2 separate regions of the Homo sapiens genome follow, and region 2 is linked to region 1. Evidence: fine-mapped expression QTL. Tissue or cell type: whole blood. Region 1 holds a variant in brackets; the other region holds the start of a gene. All regions are shown on one strand. Distances are from middle to middle.

Evidence for each region. PIP is the estimated chance that this variant, and not a neighbour inherited with it, causes the effect.
Region 2: it holds the start of PDS5A, and the variant in region 1 is fine-mapped to the expression of PDS5A in whole blood (INTERVAL, PIP 0.98).

What each region holds. Positions count from the first base shown.
Region 1 is chr4:39,818,174-39,826,277 of GRCh38, forward strand. It overlaps PDS5A (PDS5 cohesin associated factor A), which reads right to left. Exons shown (of 33, transcript NM_001100399.2): 33 at 4,690-7,315. The coding sequence ends at 7,312. Among named protein-coding and RNA genes, the nearest start is that of UBE2K, 120 kb to the left of the region's middle. RefSeq lists an enhancer at 2,026-2,563. The variant C/T (reference allele first, on the strand shown) is at 4,864.
Region 2 is chr4:39,973,708-39,981,811 of GRCh38, forward strand. PDS5A (PDS5 cohesin associated factor A) reads right to left here and starts at 4,204. Exons shown (of 33, transcript NM_001100399.2): 1 at 3,750-4,204; 2 at 2,733-2,910. The coding sequence starts at 2,870. It also overlaps the pseudogene PABPC1P1. RefSeq lists an enhancer at 2,543-3,451 and silencers at 2,989-3,738, 3,789-4,428.

The DNA.
Region 1 (8,104 bases):
TGTGGGGACTGAGAAATGTTCGACTACCATGCTGTGTGGATGCCTTGTCATTAAGACAACCTCCAAGCTGTGTATGTGTAGAGAGAAGAAAATGAGGCCGGGCGCGGTGGCTCATGCCTGTAATCCCAGCACTTTGGGAGGATGAGGCGAGTGGATCACAAGGTCAGGAGATCGAGACCATCCTGGCTAACACGGTGAAACCCCATCTCTACTAAAAATACAAAAATTATCCGGGCGTGGTGGCGGGCGCCTGTAGTCCCAGCTAGTCGGGAGCCTGAGGCAGGAGAATGGCGCAAACCCGGGAGGTGGAGCTTGCAGTGAGCCGAGATTGCACCACTGCACTCCAGCCTGGGCGACAGAGCCAGACTCTGTCTCAAAAAAAACAAAAAGAAAATGAGAACCAGTCTACTTTTAATATCCCTAATGAGCCATGGCTTCTAAAAAGACAGATCCTGTGCTCGTAATTATAAGCTTCCATGGGCAGCCGAGCTGCCAAATGGTCAAAAAATGCAGAGCCCTTAGTCCCTGGGTCCGGCCTACATCTAAAAGTAAGGCAGTTTTGGGGTAACCAGTATTTTGCTTTTCAGCTTTTGGCCTGAGGTGGGTTGCAAAGGGACAGCTTCCTTTCAGTCCCTGCGGTTGACCTTCCTCTTGGAGGGGACATGCCAGATGCATCCAGAAGGCTAAACTGCCAGGGTTTTCTTGGGGTAGGGGTTGGGGGGCCACCAGGGTGGAGCTCTTCAAAAAGGCTCTGAAAAATGGGTGCTTCGCGGGCTGCCTTGCTTTGGAGAAGTCCACTAAGCTCCTAAGGTGGCACAAAATTTGTCCAAAGGAGCCACAGGAATTACTGACACACAGAATTTGTGCTTTGAGTGGGGCGTGTCCCCTGTCCCTCAGGACTACAGTGGATAGAGAGGTTTCAGGGCTGGGACCAGCTCTTCCCCAGAGCAGGGAAGTTTAAGGCCCAGGGAGGTTTAAGGAGTGTTGGGATTCGCTGAAGTGGTGGCCTTCTTGTCTTTCCCCAGCCCTCAGCCTGGAGAGCCACCTCCAGCTTCAGGCCCAGCTCCTTGTGCCCTGAGGTAGGGCAGTTTGCTCAGGCCAGTCACTTCTTCTTTTTTTTTTTTTTTTTGAAACGGAGTTTTACTCTTGTTGCCCAGGCTGGAGTGCGGTGAGCGCGATCTTGACTCACCACAACCTCTGCCTCCCGGGTTCAAGCGATTCTCCTCTCAGCCTCCCAAGTAGCTGGGATTACAGGCATGTGCCAGCACATCTGGCTAATTTTGTATTTTTGGTAGAGATGGTTTCTCCATGTTGGTCAGGCTGGTGTTGAACTCCTGACCTTAGGTGATCCGCCCACCTCGACCTCCTAAAGTGCTGGGATTACAGGCGTGAGCCACTGCGCCTGGCCCAGTCACTTCTTTAGACACCTACATGCTCATAACAGTTCTCAGAATTGCACTTCAGTAGAAAAGGTGAGGATTTTCTGCTTCTACGGCATCCATCAGGGTTCTGAAGTCCACACAAAATGTATCACCTGGAACAGTCGCAGCTGCCTGTGTTATGTTGCTAGTCCTTGTAAGGCACCAATCCTGGTGTTTTTAATGTCGGCTCCTGGCATCGTGCCTAGTCTCTACAGATTACAAATGCCTGAAATGATGAAAAATGGCGACTCCCTATTTTCTAGTTGGCTTTTGCAGATCCAGAATCAGCACTACGGTGGCTCCTTACATGTCTTACTGACTTCTAGTGGTTTTTTTTGTATTAGTCCATTCTCATGCTGCTATAAAGAACTCCCTGAAGCTGGGTGCAGTGGCTCATGGCTGTAATCCCAGCACTTTGGGAGGCTGAGGCGGGTGGATCACCTGAGGTCAGGAGTTCGAGACCAGCATGACCAATATGGTGAAACCCCGTCTCTACTAAAAATACTACTACTCAGGAGACTGAGGCAGGAGAATCGCTTGAACCCAGGAGGCGGAGGTTGCAGTGAGCTGAGATCGCACCATTGCACTCCAGCCTGGGCAACAAGAGCAAAACTCCGTCTCAAAAACAAAAAAACAAAACAAAACAAAAGAAAACAAAAGCCTGCCTGAGACTGGGTAATTTAGAAAGGAAAGGTTTAATTGACTCAGTTCCGGATGGCTGGGGAAGCCTCAGGAAACTTAATCATGGTGGAAGGGGAAAGGGAAGCAAGGCACTTCTTATACGGCAGCAGGGGAGAGCCAGAGCAAGGAAGGGCCACACCTTTTAAACCATCAGATCTCATGAGAACCACTATCAAGAGAACAGCATGGGGGAAACCGCCCCAGATTCAATCACCTCCCACTAGGTCCCTCCCTCGACATGTGGGGGATGGCAATTTGAGATGAGATTTGGGTGAGGACAAAGAGCCAAACCATGTCACTATTCAAGCTTCTTCAGGAAGAATGGATGTAGTGCTATTTACTAAAAATAACAGGTTTTATTCAGAATGACACGGTCCTTGCTCAAGAACAACAGGAGTAACCAGAGAATGAGGGGAGATAAGTTAGCAATCAGTATTGATAAAGAAACATTTGAGAAACACCCCAAAACTGAAGTACTGATCAGCAGCCTGGCCCAGGTTCCTTAGAAATGAGACCTGTATATGTTCCCGTTAGGCTTTTTTTTCTTTGACACAAGGTCTTGGTCACCCAGGCTGGAATGCAGTGGTGTGATCTCAGTTTACTGCAGCCTCTGCCTCCTGGACTCAAGCAATCGTCCCACCTCAGCCTCCCGAGAAGCTGGGAAAACAGGCACGCACCACCATGCCTGTCTTATTTTTTTAATTTTTTGGTAGAGATGGGTTGTATGTTGCCCTGCTAAGACTTTGAACTATGATACAATAGTGAAATAAATGAAGGTTATTACTCTCATGGGAATGAAAAGTTGAAGGTATGGTTTACAGCAGAAAGGCACTTGATTCTGCACTCTCATTTCCATCCTCCCTACCTTGCTGGCTTATAGCGAACTCCTTGTAGGAAATGCTGTCACCGTTACCTAAGCAGGCTACAAAGCTGCTTGTCAGAGCAGGACAGTTCATGTGAGTAGCAAAGACAAAAAAGTCTTGTCAGTGCAAGTATTGGGGGTGGAAGGTCAACCCATTATGGGTAAAATACAAAACTAGGCATGATAGCTTTTCCTTTTTTTTTTGAGACAGGGTCTCAGCCTGTCACTCAGGCTGGAGTGCAGTGGTGCAAAATGTACGTTTCAGGCCTTTATTTACTTATTTTGAGACGGAGTCTCGCTCTGTTGCCCAGGCTGGAGTGTAGTGGCACAATCTTGGCTCACTGCAACCTCCGCCTCCCTGGTTCAAGCGATTCTCCTGCCTCAGTCTCCCGCGAAGCTGGGACTACAGGCGTGCGCCAGTATGCCTGGCTAATTTTTTTTATCTTTAGTAGAGACAGGGTTTCACTATGTTGACGAGGCTGGTCTCAAACTCCTGACCTCAGGTGATCTGCCTGCCTCAGCCTCCCAAAGTGCTGGGATCACAGGTGTGAGCCACCGTGCCCAGCCTATTATTTTTGAGACAGTTTCATTCTTATTGCCCAGGCTGGAGTGCAATGGCGCAATCTCGGCTCACCACAACCTCCGCTTCCCAGGTTCAAGTGATTCTCCTGCCTCAGCCTCCCACGTAGCTGGGATTACAGGCATGCGCCACCAAGTCTGGCTAATTTTTTTGTATTTTTATTCAAGACGGGATTTCTCCATGTTGGTCAGGCTGGTCTCGAACTCCTGACCTCAGGTGATCCACCTGCCTCAGCCTCCCAAAGTGCTGGGATTACAGCCATGAGCCACCACGCCTGGCCTATTTATTTTTGAAACAGTTTTGCTCTGTTGCCCAGGCTAGAGTGCAGTGGTGTGATCTTGGCTCACTGCAACCGACGACTCCCAGGCTCAACGGATTCTCCCACCTCAGTCTCCTGAGTAACTGGGACTACAGGTGTGCACCACCACACTCGGCTGATTTTTGTATTTTCGGTAGAGACAGGGTTCACCATGTTGCCCAGGCCAGTCTTGAACTCTTTAGGTCAAGTGACCTACCTGCCTCGGCCACCCTCCCAAAGTGCTGGGATTAAAGGTGTGACTCACTGCGCCCAGCCATGATAGACTTTCTTACCTCTCGTTCTGGTCACCTCTTACTCCAGATACATTTATGTAATCTGCTTGCTCTCTTGAATTTGTTATGGAACTAAATATGTGAGTGCAGAACTTGCAATGAATGGATGAACCATAGACTAATATGAATCAAAGGCTGCTATTAAATTCTTAGGTTAAAAAAATAACTTCTTGGCCAGGTCTGGTGGCTCAGGCCTGTAATCCCAGCACTTTTCTAGGAGCCTGGGGCAGGAGGATTGCTACAGTGAGCCATGATCATGTCATTGCACTCCAGCCTGGGCAACAGGGTAAGATCTCATTTCAAAAAAAAAGCCACCCCCTAAAACAAACCTCGTTTGGAAATTCCGAATGTGCCTCAGAATTTATCATCCACTATGTTCTTCCTTAGCCACTGTAAGCTACCTCAGAGTACCCAGCCAGGAAGTTTGAAGGTGGCTTTTGATTTCTAATTAGGATATTCAGACTCCAGCATCTCAACAGAAAATATGCAGAGACATTTTATCAACTTGTGACATACCAGGGGTACATGAATATTCAGGGCTCCACACTACTATATAATGCTGCATTTCTTGGTTTTATTTGAAACAGTGCATATTTTTAGCATTTTATGGTAGGATTTTACACTTGTCATTTACACAAATTACAAGGTTCTGCTTCAAGTTTTTAAAAAAAATTTAAAAATTCAGCCCATGTGCAGCACAAGAATATGCAAAACTACTTTACATTATA[C/T]ACACTTTTTATCAAAGGAGATACAAAATTCTGGCTTGTTGTTTTAGACAAATACAAGAAGCTTCAAACTAGACACAAAGGGTTAACATTAATTCTCAAATATAAGTCTGCACTTTTGTGTTGTAGTTCTCTGAGATGTGAATACCAAATTCCTAAGGGATTTTAATGTTTTCCTTTGAAAAGGAAAACTAAAAAAATTCCCGTAAACAAGTCCCTCCCCATCAGCTTGGTCTTTCCACAACCCTACTCTTGCTTCCCTTAGTGCCAGACACTTGCATCATGTTACAAAATTGGGGTGGGCCACTTACATCATACAAGGAGCAAATCCTTTTAACTTCTCTCCTGCAAAAATCTAAACAGGAATATATTGATGCAGATGGTTCTGCTACATTTTATTTAATATGATGTAACACTTGGTAATCTAGTAAACTGTGATGCCGGGCAATTAATCAAAGGGAGGAAGAGACAAAGGTCCCTATCAATGCACTTTTTGTTGGTGACACACTGGAAACCTTAGGAATCAAGTTGTCTGATGCTAAGAGAACTTTAAACTCTCTCTAAATAGAACACACCTACTGATTGCTTGAGGGACTTCTCTGATACTTATGCATAGATACTCTTTTTCAGCATGTTGGAGGCAATATTTTATACTTTCTAAAGGGTTCTGAAGAGGCAATAAGGAAGAGTGGGGATTTTTCTGCCCCTGTAAAGGTATCATTTTCTATCATTGGTATCCATTGTTCCCTAAGCATCTTCTGATACCTAAATGTGTGTAAATGCATATTTAAAATAATTACCCATCTTTCAGTCAATACACAGCCAACTCTTGATTATCTATGAGAAACGTAAGTGACATTTACTCTCAAACTTCACTCTAACAGAATCATCCACCTTTGATACACTTGTTTGTTTTACATCCCATGTACACTACAGCCTATCAAGACGAAGTTATAACACAAATGTTGTTTCCTCTGACCCATGCTAGAAACGTGTAAGGAAATGGAGTGAGCACATTCTGCTAGGGCTTTGCGGATGACCCTACAGTGGACAGTGGGGGCAGGATAGAACTCTGGACATGAGAAAAGACAAATTTCATGTTCCTCCAGAATCAGGTCTTACATGCCTTCGTTATTTTGTTATCACAAAATTAAAAACCTGAGGCTTAGTCACTATTTTATATAGATAATGGAGAGTTGACTGTAATCATGTTATGACTTTAGCTCTTTAACATGAAAAAATTCACAAGAAAGCATATGATAAAAAGATTAAAAAGACTGCCATGACATCTAGAAGCATTTATTTTATGCAAAAAACTTAAATATGATTATGTGTACACATAAAGTGCACACATTACCTATGCTGAACAATGCCAAGAAACATAATATATTGATGCAACAGTTTTCTAAAATAAACATAAAAATGAGCCCAGACCATCAGACAAAAGCAAAACACTTATTTCCAAATAGCACAATGCTGAAAATTGATAGCAATCCTAAAACACCTCCAACTTTCCTTAAAAGCTGCCAAAGTCCAACTATTTTTTAAAAATTGATTTTTTTTACATTAATAAAAATCTGGTGACAAACATTATAAAACCAAATGCTGGACAGTCTTTACTCCTTTAAAATTCCAAATATTCCAACATAATCACAGGAGTAAAAACCATTTTAAAGTGATATGCTTTATGAAACAAACAACAATATGTACATTTATTGCAAATTATATTAAACTAAAATGAGGGGAAATCAAAATATGAACTGTTTACTACTTGCAAATCAATAATTTTAATTTTCTCACTCTGATAAAAATCAGAAAGCAACATTTATAAAATTGCTACCACATCACTTTTCATAGCAGGGAACCGAAATCTGTACATCTCATTTTTGCAGAAAAGTAGGCAGGCAGAAAGAATTATACATAAAAGTTTCCAAAAGGAAAAACAAAGAAATATTTAATCTGATCTCTTTTCTTTTAAAAAATTAATTCAGTAGACTTCTATTTTTTCCTGTGTAACATGGGAATTCCTGGCTCTAAAATGGATGAATTTTCAGTGTCAGTGTAAAGACATCTTGTTACTTTCTTTAAAATAAAAACTGCAGCGTGGAAATTAATGGTGTATTACGCATTTAAACTCCAGATAGGCAGGAACTGGAACCAAGTGTTAAGCAATTTGCTTAATTATTGACTTTTCGTAAGAAAAGTCTAGGGGAAGGGGGAGAACAGAGTTGCTTTTAGCCTCTCTCTCAAGAGTTTCTGCTGTACATTTCCATCAGAGGACTTGTGGTCATGTGAAAAGGAAGTAATAGTCTCTTTAGTTTTCAAGGCAGAGAGTGTGTGTTCTGAAGTGAGCTTCATTTTCTGTTCAGGGACATTTGTGAATCCAAGTTTTTGCAGAAGCTGGAGCCTGCTTCTGTTTGGCCTTCATTTTCTCCCTTTGCAAATGCATTTTTACCTTAGGGTTAAGAATAGAACGCAAAGTTAGAAAAGATGTGGAGAAGATATAAACCAAACGAAAATGATTTCATTTCCATAGTTGTTATCTAAAATCTTTTTTTTTTTTTTTAAACTTAAGCATCAGGATCTCACTCTGTCACTCAGGCTGAAGTACAGTGGCACGATCATGGCTCACTCAGCCCCAACTCCTGGGTTCAAGTGGTCCTCCAGGCTCAGCGTCCAGCCTGAGCCTCCCAAATAGCTAGAACTATAGGCGCACACCACCATGGCTGGCTAATTTTTAAATTATTTGTACAGACGGGATCTCATTATGTTGCCCAGGCTGGTCTTCAACTCCTGAGCTCAAGCGATCTGGGAAGCCTGCGCTTCTCAGATTCACTACTGGGATTACAGGCATGAGTCACTGTGCTTGGCATGTTATCTAAAATCCTTAAAAAGTTTTTTCATTTTTTCACCTGAAACTTGGTTTAAAGAGCCTTTCCCTAAACTATATAAAAACCAAACACCAATAAAGAAGTTTTTGTTTTCAATGACTTAGTGCTGCTATCCAATGCCCTATTTGCTTACAACATTAAAAGCTATTTATCATACTATGGCAAAATGAATTTATAAGCAGCAAAATAACTTCTGACTCATGAGCTGGGTAAACATAAACGTTTTAGCATACTAAAAACATCCCAACCAAACTGGCGTGTTTTTTTTTTTTTTTTAAACGCATTTCCCTAATAGGGAGGGAAATTCTGATCCCTGGAAGCACAGGAGAGTGGGACATGGCCTCTTTCTCACC
Region 2 (8,104 bases), 160 kb after region 1:
CACTTCACTAACCAGCATATGCAGAGAATGGCAAGTGTACGAGCTGTGCCCAACCATGTAATCAACCCCTACCAGCCAGCACCTCCTTCAGGTTACTTCATGGCAGCTATTCCACAGACTCAGAACCGTGCTGCAAGACCGGGCGCGGTGGCTCACGCCTGTAATCCCAGCACTTTGGGAGGCCAAGAGGGGCAGATCACGAGGTCAGGAGATCGAGACCATCCTGGCTAACACGGTGAAACCCGTCTCTACTAAAAAAATACAAAAAATTAGCCGGGCATGATGGCGGGCGCCCGTGGTCCCAGCTACTCGGGAGGCTGAGGCAGGAGAATGGCGTGAACCCGGGAGGCGGAGCTTACAGTGAGCCGAGATCGCACCCACTCCAGCCTGGGCGACAGAGCGAGACTCTGTCTCAAAAATAAATAAAAACCGTGCTGCATACTCTCCTCCTAGCCAAACTGCTCTACTGAGACCAAGTCCTCGCTGGACTGCTCAGGGTGCCAGACCTCATCCATTCCAATATGCCAGGTGCTATCCCCAAGCTGCTCCTATACCACCACTTAATACTATGAGACCAGCTTCTTCACAGGTTCCATGAGTCATGTCAACAGAGCGGTTGCTAACACATCAACTTTCCATTTTTTAACCAAATTATCCAACATTAGAATTCAAGGTTTCAATATTCTTAATTTGAAAACAATAAATATTAACGATCCATCAATTGTTTAAGTTTTATATTTCATAATTTCTCACTCCCAAAACAGTGTAACTTTTAGAAGCATCAATCAAGCAGCTCAATTCATGTATAATCTTTAGTATCAATATTTGCTTTATTTATTTTATTTTACTTTTTTGAGATGAAGTTTCACTCCTGTTGCCCAGGCTGGAGTGCAATGGCGCGATCTCCGCTCATCAAAACTTCCGCCTCCCGGGTTCAAGCGATTCTCCTGCCTCAGCCTCCCAGTAGCTAGGATTACAGGTATGCGCCACCACGCCCAGCTAATTTTGTATTTTTAGTAGAACTCCAGACCTCGGGTGATTTGCCTGCCTCGGCCTCCCGAAGTGCTGGGATTACAGGCTGGAGCCACCACACCAGGCCCAAGATTTGTTTTAATGAAAGGGGCTGGGAGCAGTGGCTCACACCTGTAATCGCAGCATATTGGGAGGCCGATGCAGGCAGATCATTCGAAGTCAGGAGATCGAGACCAAAGTGACCAACATAGTGAAATCCCATCTCTACTAAAAATACAAAAATTAGCTGGGCGTGGTGGCAGGCACCTGTAATCCCAGCTACTAGAGAGGCTGAGGCAGAATTGCTTGAACCCGGGAGGTGGAGGTTGCAGTGGGCCGAGACGCGCCACTGCACTCCAGCCTAGGTGACAGAGCAAGACTCCGTCTCAAAAAAAAAAAAAAAAAAAAAATTTAGCCGGGTGTGGTGGCACACGCTGGTAGTCCCAGCTACTTGGGAGGCTGAGGCAGAATAGCTTGAACCTGGGAAGTGGAGGTTGCAGTGAGCTGAGATCCCGCCGCCGCACACAGATTTGTTTTAATGAAAGGAACTGTTGTCTTATTCCTTCCAAAAAGGCAACAAATTGCAGAACCAAATTAAGAGTCTGAAAACTAAACCACAGGAATATTTTAAATACTGTACTCATTAAAATGCAACATTAGGTACATTTACTGGGCTCCAAGAGCAAGAGGCCAAGCTCATTCCCTAAAATACATTTGGCCAAGTGGCCCAAGGTGGAAACATTGTCAACAATGTTGCTTCCCTCACCTCCCACCAATTCTGATTGATTCTAACTCTGAAAAGTTGTTAAATCATTTCCTAGTCACTATTACCAATGCCATAGCCCTACCTGAAGATTTCAACGTCTTTCACCTAGACTACTGTTTACAGTTTCCTAGCCGGACTCACTGCCTCTGGTCTTCCCCTACTCCAATCTAGCACCAATTGTGACAACCAAAATGTCTCCAGCATTGCCAAACATCTCCTGGAGGTCAAAGTTGCCCTGACTCAGAACCACTGCTTCAAGCTGTTCCTACAAGAAGAATATTACTTATTTGTTAAGATTCTGGCCACAATCTATGTCAGTGGAACAGAAACCAAAAAAACTAACAAACATGAGGTTGAAATTTAAAACCTTAACCTTAGGACTGCCATGCTTAAACAAAATTAGCTGACACCTCATAAAAAGGGCCATAATACTCTTAAACTCCTTTGAACGTATAGACTTAAATCATCTTACTTTAAGCCTGAATTATGAAAAGTCTGTACCTTCTGTCAAAGTTTAACCACCATATATACATATTTAAGCTTCTGGATATAGAAAATTATGCAAATTTTTAAAAAGGACTTTGCGCTTTAATCAATCCCCTTCAGAAGCTGAAAATAGTAAACTTCTTAGGCAAATTACTGCCTACACCTAAGTTTGCAAGCCACTCTGAACAGTATTCTCATTAAATACCTCCAGAAAAAACTCTAAAAACACAAATTCTTATGCTTGAAAACCAGTAAGTTTTTGAAAAATCACACTCCTTTTAAATTTCCCACAATGGTTATATCCCTACAAAACTCACTCAAAGATGTTATCTGAGATACAACAGTACCTTTCAGAGGGGGTAAGAGATCTAAAAAACTTGGAACTTTAAAGGCCAGACTGAGCAGGGTAGCAGTATCACAGGAGAAAGCGCCTTCTACCAAAGACATCAAAATCCGTCCAGACACTTACCTTCAGGCGTTTGATCATCTCGTCCGTGGTGATCTTGTCGGTGATCTCTTTTACCCCCGGAGGGTAAGCGATCTTCCCGTCGGCACTCACGACGCCACAGAGGGCAGTGGCAGGCTTGGGCTGCGCGGTGAAGTCCATCCTGGGGGACAACTTTTGGTTCACAGTCCTCTACCGGCCTCTATCGGTCAGAAAACCAAAGTTCAGCGGGAAAGGGGCGACTTTGTAACCTCTTTTTTCATTTCAAATCTCTCTAATCTGGAAAAGGCCCTGTCTCCCCAGAGGCCGGGGACCCGGCAGCGGCCTCGCCACCCGCTCTTTCCCAGGGATCGAACCCCGCCGGCCCCGCCAACCCGGCCCTGCCAGCCCCAGGCTCACGGGGCTCCTCCGCACCAGCCGCCGTGGCCGCCGAACAGCGCCAGGAGTTTCCCATTCCGCCTTTCACAATGAAATCCACCCCCGAGCACCAGGGTCCGAAGTTTGGCGGCCCCGGGAGGCCGGCAAGGACCCCAAGGCCCCCGCTCGGCGGTGGGGAAGCACCCAGTCCCGCCCGGCCAGTCCCCTCCGGGAAACCAGACCCGAGGCCTATAGGGCTCGGCTTAGGCCGCAAAACTAGGGACCCAGCGGACCCACGCGCAGCGGCGGCTGCCGGGAACAAAACGCCCTTGCCCAGCCGAGCCTCGGACCCGGGGTAGTCCCCGCCGCGCTGCCACCCCTCCCCTGTTCCGCTCCCTCACCCCCGCGGGAGGGGAAAACAAGCCGCCCTCCACCCTCAGCCCCACGCCAGGAAGCGGCTGACGCGCCTCCGCACTTCACATTTTGTTCCTTCAACTTCGGCTGAGGGACCCCAGCTGCTTCTCTGGCCCCCGGCCGCTTGGCGCCTCCGGCACCGCCGAGGCCTTCCCGGCACCCTCGGGCGGCCCCACCGGGCCTCGGACCCGCGGCCCCCCCCTCCAGTCTCCCCTTCCGTCCCCTCCCTCCAGCAGCCTAGGGCGGGAGCCGAGCCGCCGCCGCCTTTACCTCCTCCTCATGCGGGCGGAAGGTGCATCGAGCGCCCGGGCCTCTGTCAGGTGGTTGCGCCGCCGCCCCTAGTCGGGCTGCACACAAAGCGGCTCCGCGGGTCCCGCCGCCGCCGCCGCCGCCGCCCGCCCGCCCGGGAGCGGCGCTGGGGCTGGCGGTGCCGAGGAGGAGCAGCCGCCGCGGGGGGAGACGCGGGGCGAGTGAGCGCTGGGCGGGGAGACAGTGCCGCTCTCCGTCTGGCCGAGGAAGAGCAGCCTCGAAGGCTCCTCCGGGAGTGTGTGCGCTTGTGTCCGTCCGGGACCCCCGCGGCCCGCCCGCACGCACCTCGCGCCGGCCCGGACCGCCGACTCGGACCCGGACGCCCCTCGCAGAGGCGCGCGCCCGGCCGTCCGTGCCCCGGGAGCCGGGGCCTCGCGCACACACCGGCCGGTCACGCGAGCGGCGCGAGAGCACGCGAGAGCAGCGCGCGCTCCTCGCTCCCTCCCCTTCCTCCGCCGGCCGTGCATCCGCCTCCCTCGGGCCCGAGGCGGCCGCGCGCAGGGCGGACAGCGCCGCCACCCGGTTGGCGCCAATACCTGCCGCGCGGGGCGCCTCCCGGAGGACCCGACCGGAGAGGGCGAGAGGAGGAGGAGCCCGGGTGGCGGGAAGCGAGCCCAGGTTCCCGCGGCCTTGCGAGGGCACGCAGGGCAAACAGTGCTTTATCTTTCGCAGCGGCGATGAGCTGGTGACTTTTGGGGGTCATCCTGAGGGACATAGACGAAACTGGTTGGGAGGTAGTTAATTGCTCGGTGAAAATGAACTGATTTCCTCCTCAGGGAGAGATCTGCAAAGTCAAGGAAAGTTGTGCAATGGGGCGCAGCGTGAGCGGCTCACTCTCGGGTCTTCTGACAGCCACCCGAGTTGCCCACCCTCCTTAGATTTCTGAAGTTAATATTTTGAAAGCTGCAAAACATGAAAATAGCATTGGGTCGAGTCGTTCTCAAGGTATGGTCTTTGGGCCACCAGGCCTCACAATCACTTTGGGTACTGGCTGAAAACGTAGGTTTCCAACTCCAAAGATTAAAAAACATAAAAATATATGTTTTTTTAACGTAAAAATATATATGAACATAAAACATATAAAAATATAACATATAAAATAAAACACTAAAAAATATAAAAATATACATAAACATAAAAATCTCTGAGAGTGGAACCCAGAAATAAGCATTTATTAATTGGGTGGGTGATTCTTGTAAATAAGGAAGAGCTCATTTTTTAAAAATGTTTTAAACCTACCAAGCATTAACGTTTTCTGTCATCCAAAGGAAAACCACTATCAGGTAAAAACAGTGCACGCAGCAGTGTTTGAGCAATTTAATGTATGTAATTGAAACAAATTAACGCAAGAACATACACTTACCTATTTAAAAAAAATCAAGAGCATACACAAAATTTCCGAAGAGAAAGTTGAAAAAAGGATACGATAATATGAAATCACATTCAGCTCTTGAAACTGACCACTACCATAGTTTAAAATGATATTCGATTGTTTATTCAAATTATTCTTGATGGGTACCCATTGGTCTATTTTTTTCCCACATCCTTTAACGTCAACTTAAAAATAGTAAAGGTACTGCATTTCAGCTCACTGACTTGTTTTTGACGTATTACACAAGAGCAGTCATTGCGAATCTGACACTCCACAGTTGCTGATTTGCTAGAACTCTGCCCAAAAGTCAATGCTTTGTTCTTGGGCATTTACAGTACCAGGCAGAATCCATTTAAAAGTGTCCTCATCCAAACTATTAAGTGGACCAAAAGCTGCTCTCTTTTTAGGCTCTCCCTGTCACTTTTGATATTTATTTTTTTCTTTTGAGACGGAATCTTACTCTGTCACCCAGGCTGGAGTGCAGTGGCGTGATATCGGCTCACTGCAAGCTCTGCCTCCCGGGTTCACGCCATTCTCCTGCCTCAGTCTTCCGAGTAGCTGGGACTACAGGCGCCCGCCACCACGCCCGGCTAATTTTTTTTTTTTGTATTTTTAGTAGAGACGGGGTTTCACCATGTTAGCCAGGATGGTCTCGATCTCCTGAGCTAGTGATCCGCCCGCCTCGGCCTCCCAGAGTGCTGGGATTACAGGCATGAGCCACCGCGCCCGGCCAAATTTGATATTTCTTTGTGTGTTACATTTAATTAAACAACAATGATTTTATCTTTCATCCTCCTCAGTAGCTTGCCCATTATTAAATGGAGTTTTGTATATGTACATATATTTTATTTTATTTATTTTTTATATTATTTTATTATTTTTTGAGATGAAGTCTCACTTTGTCGCCCAGACTGCAGTGCAGTGGCATGATCTCGGCTCACTACAGCATCCGCCTCCCAGGTTCAAGCGACTTTTGTGCCTCAGGCCCCCAAGTAGTTGGGACTACAGGTGTGTGCCACCATACCGGGCTAATTTTTTTTTGAGACAGAGTCTCCCTCTGTCGCCCAGGCTGGAGTGTGGTGGTGTGATCTTGGCTCACTACAACCTCTGACTTCTGGGTTCAAGCAATTCTCCTGCCTCACCCTCCCAAGTAGCTGGGATTACAGGCGCCCGCCACTATGCCCGGCTAATTTTTGTTATTTTTAGTAGAGACAGGGTTTCACCATGTTGGTCAGGCTGGTCTCAAACTCCTGACCTCAGGTAATCTGCCCGCCTCACCCTCCCAAAGTGCTGGGATTACAGGCTTGAGCCACCGTGCCTGGCCTTACTGGTTGATTTCTTTTTTTTTTTTTTTAACATGGAGTCTCACTCTATCACCAGGCTTGAGTGCAGTGGTGCGATCTCGGTTCACTTCACCTCTGCCTCCCAGGTTCAAGCGATTCATCTGCCTCAGTCTCCCAAGTAGCTGGGACTACAGGCGTACACCACCACGCCCAGCTTATTTTTATATTTTTAGTAGAGATGGAGTTTCACCATATTGGCCAGGCTGATCTCGAATTCCTGACCTCGTGATTTGCCCGCCTCGGCCTCCCAAAGTGCTGGGATTACAGGTGTGAGCCCCTGCGCCTGGCCTATTTTATTTTTTCGAGACGAAGTCTTGCTCTGTTGCCCAGGCTGGAGTGCAGTGGTACAATCTGGGCGCACTGCAACCTACGCCTCCTGGGTTCAAGCAGATCTCCTGCGTCAGCCTCCCAAGATCTGGGACTACAGGCATGCGCCACCACGCCTGGCTAATTTTTGTACTTTTAGTAGAGACAGGGTTTTACCATGTTGGCCAGCCTGGTCTCGAACTCTTGACCTTAGGTGATCCACCCACCTTGGGCTCCCAAAGTGCTGGAATTACAGGCATGAGCCACTGCACCCAACCTCCACCAAGCTTTTCTTCCCCGCTCAGTGCCCAAAACAATGCCTTATATTATAGGCCTCTTTAAATAATTGTTTCACAAATGAAGGCCTGCCCTCCTGGTGGACCTTAATTTGTTTGGGGAGAAATAGACCAAAATAACAATAATACATGTATATGAAAATAAAGTAGGGAAGAGTTGGGCACGGTGGCTCGCACCTGTAATCCCAGCACTTTGGGAGGGGGAGGCAGGCAGACTATTTGAGGTCACGAGTTTCAGACCAGCCTGGCCAGCATGGTGAAACCCCATCTCTATTAAAAAGACAAAAAATTAGACTCAGTGGCTCAGGCACGGTGGCTCAGGACTGTAATCCCAGCACTTTGGGAAGCCGAGGTGGGTGGATCACCTGAGGTCAGGAGTTCCAGACCAGCCTGACCAACATGGTGAAACCCTGTCTCCACTAAAAATACAAAAATTAGGCAGGCGCACTGGCACATGTCTGTAATCCCAGCTACTAAGAAGGCTGAGGCAGGAGAATCGTTTGAACCGGGGAGATGGAGGTTGCAGCGAGCTGAGAAAGCACCACTGCACTCCAGCCTGGGCGACAGAGTGAGACTCCCTGGAGTGAGAGAGAGTACAGATCACATGTAGCCTTTTAGACCTCTGGTAAGACTGTGGCTATCCTCTGATTGAGGTGGGGAACTAATGGACTGTTTTAAGCAAAGAGGTGATATGATGTATGTCCTGAGTTAGGCAATGTTGGTCAAACCACTTAATTCTTCTGTGCCTCATTTTCTTCATCTGTAAAACAAGGATAATGATAGTATCTTCCTCACATGATCATTATGAGGAATACATAACTTAATTTTTTTTTCTGTCGCCCAGGCTGGAGTGCAGTGTTGCAGTCTCGGCTCACTGCAACCTCTGCCTCCCAGGTTCAAGTGATTCTCTTGCCTCAGCTTCCCTAGTAGCTGTGATTACAGGCACGCACCACCATGCCCAGCAATTTTTTGTATTTTTAGTGTGATGGGATTTCACCA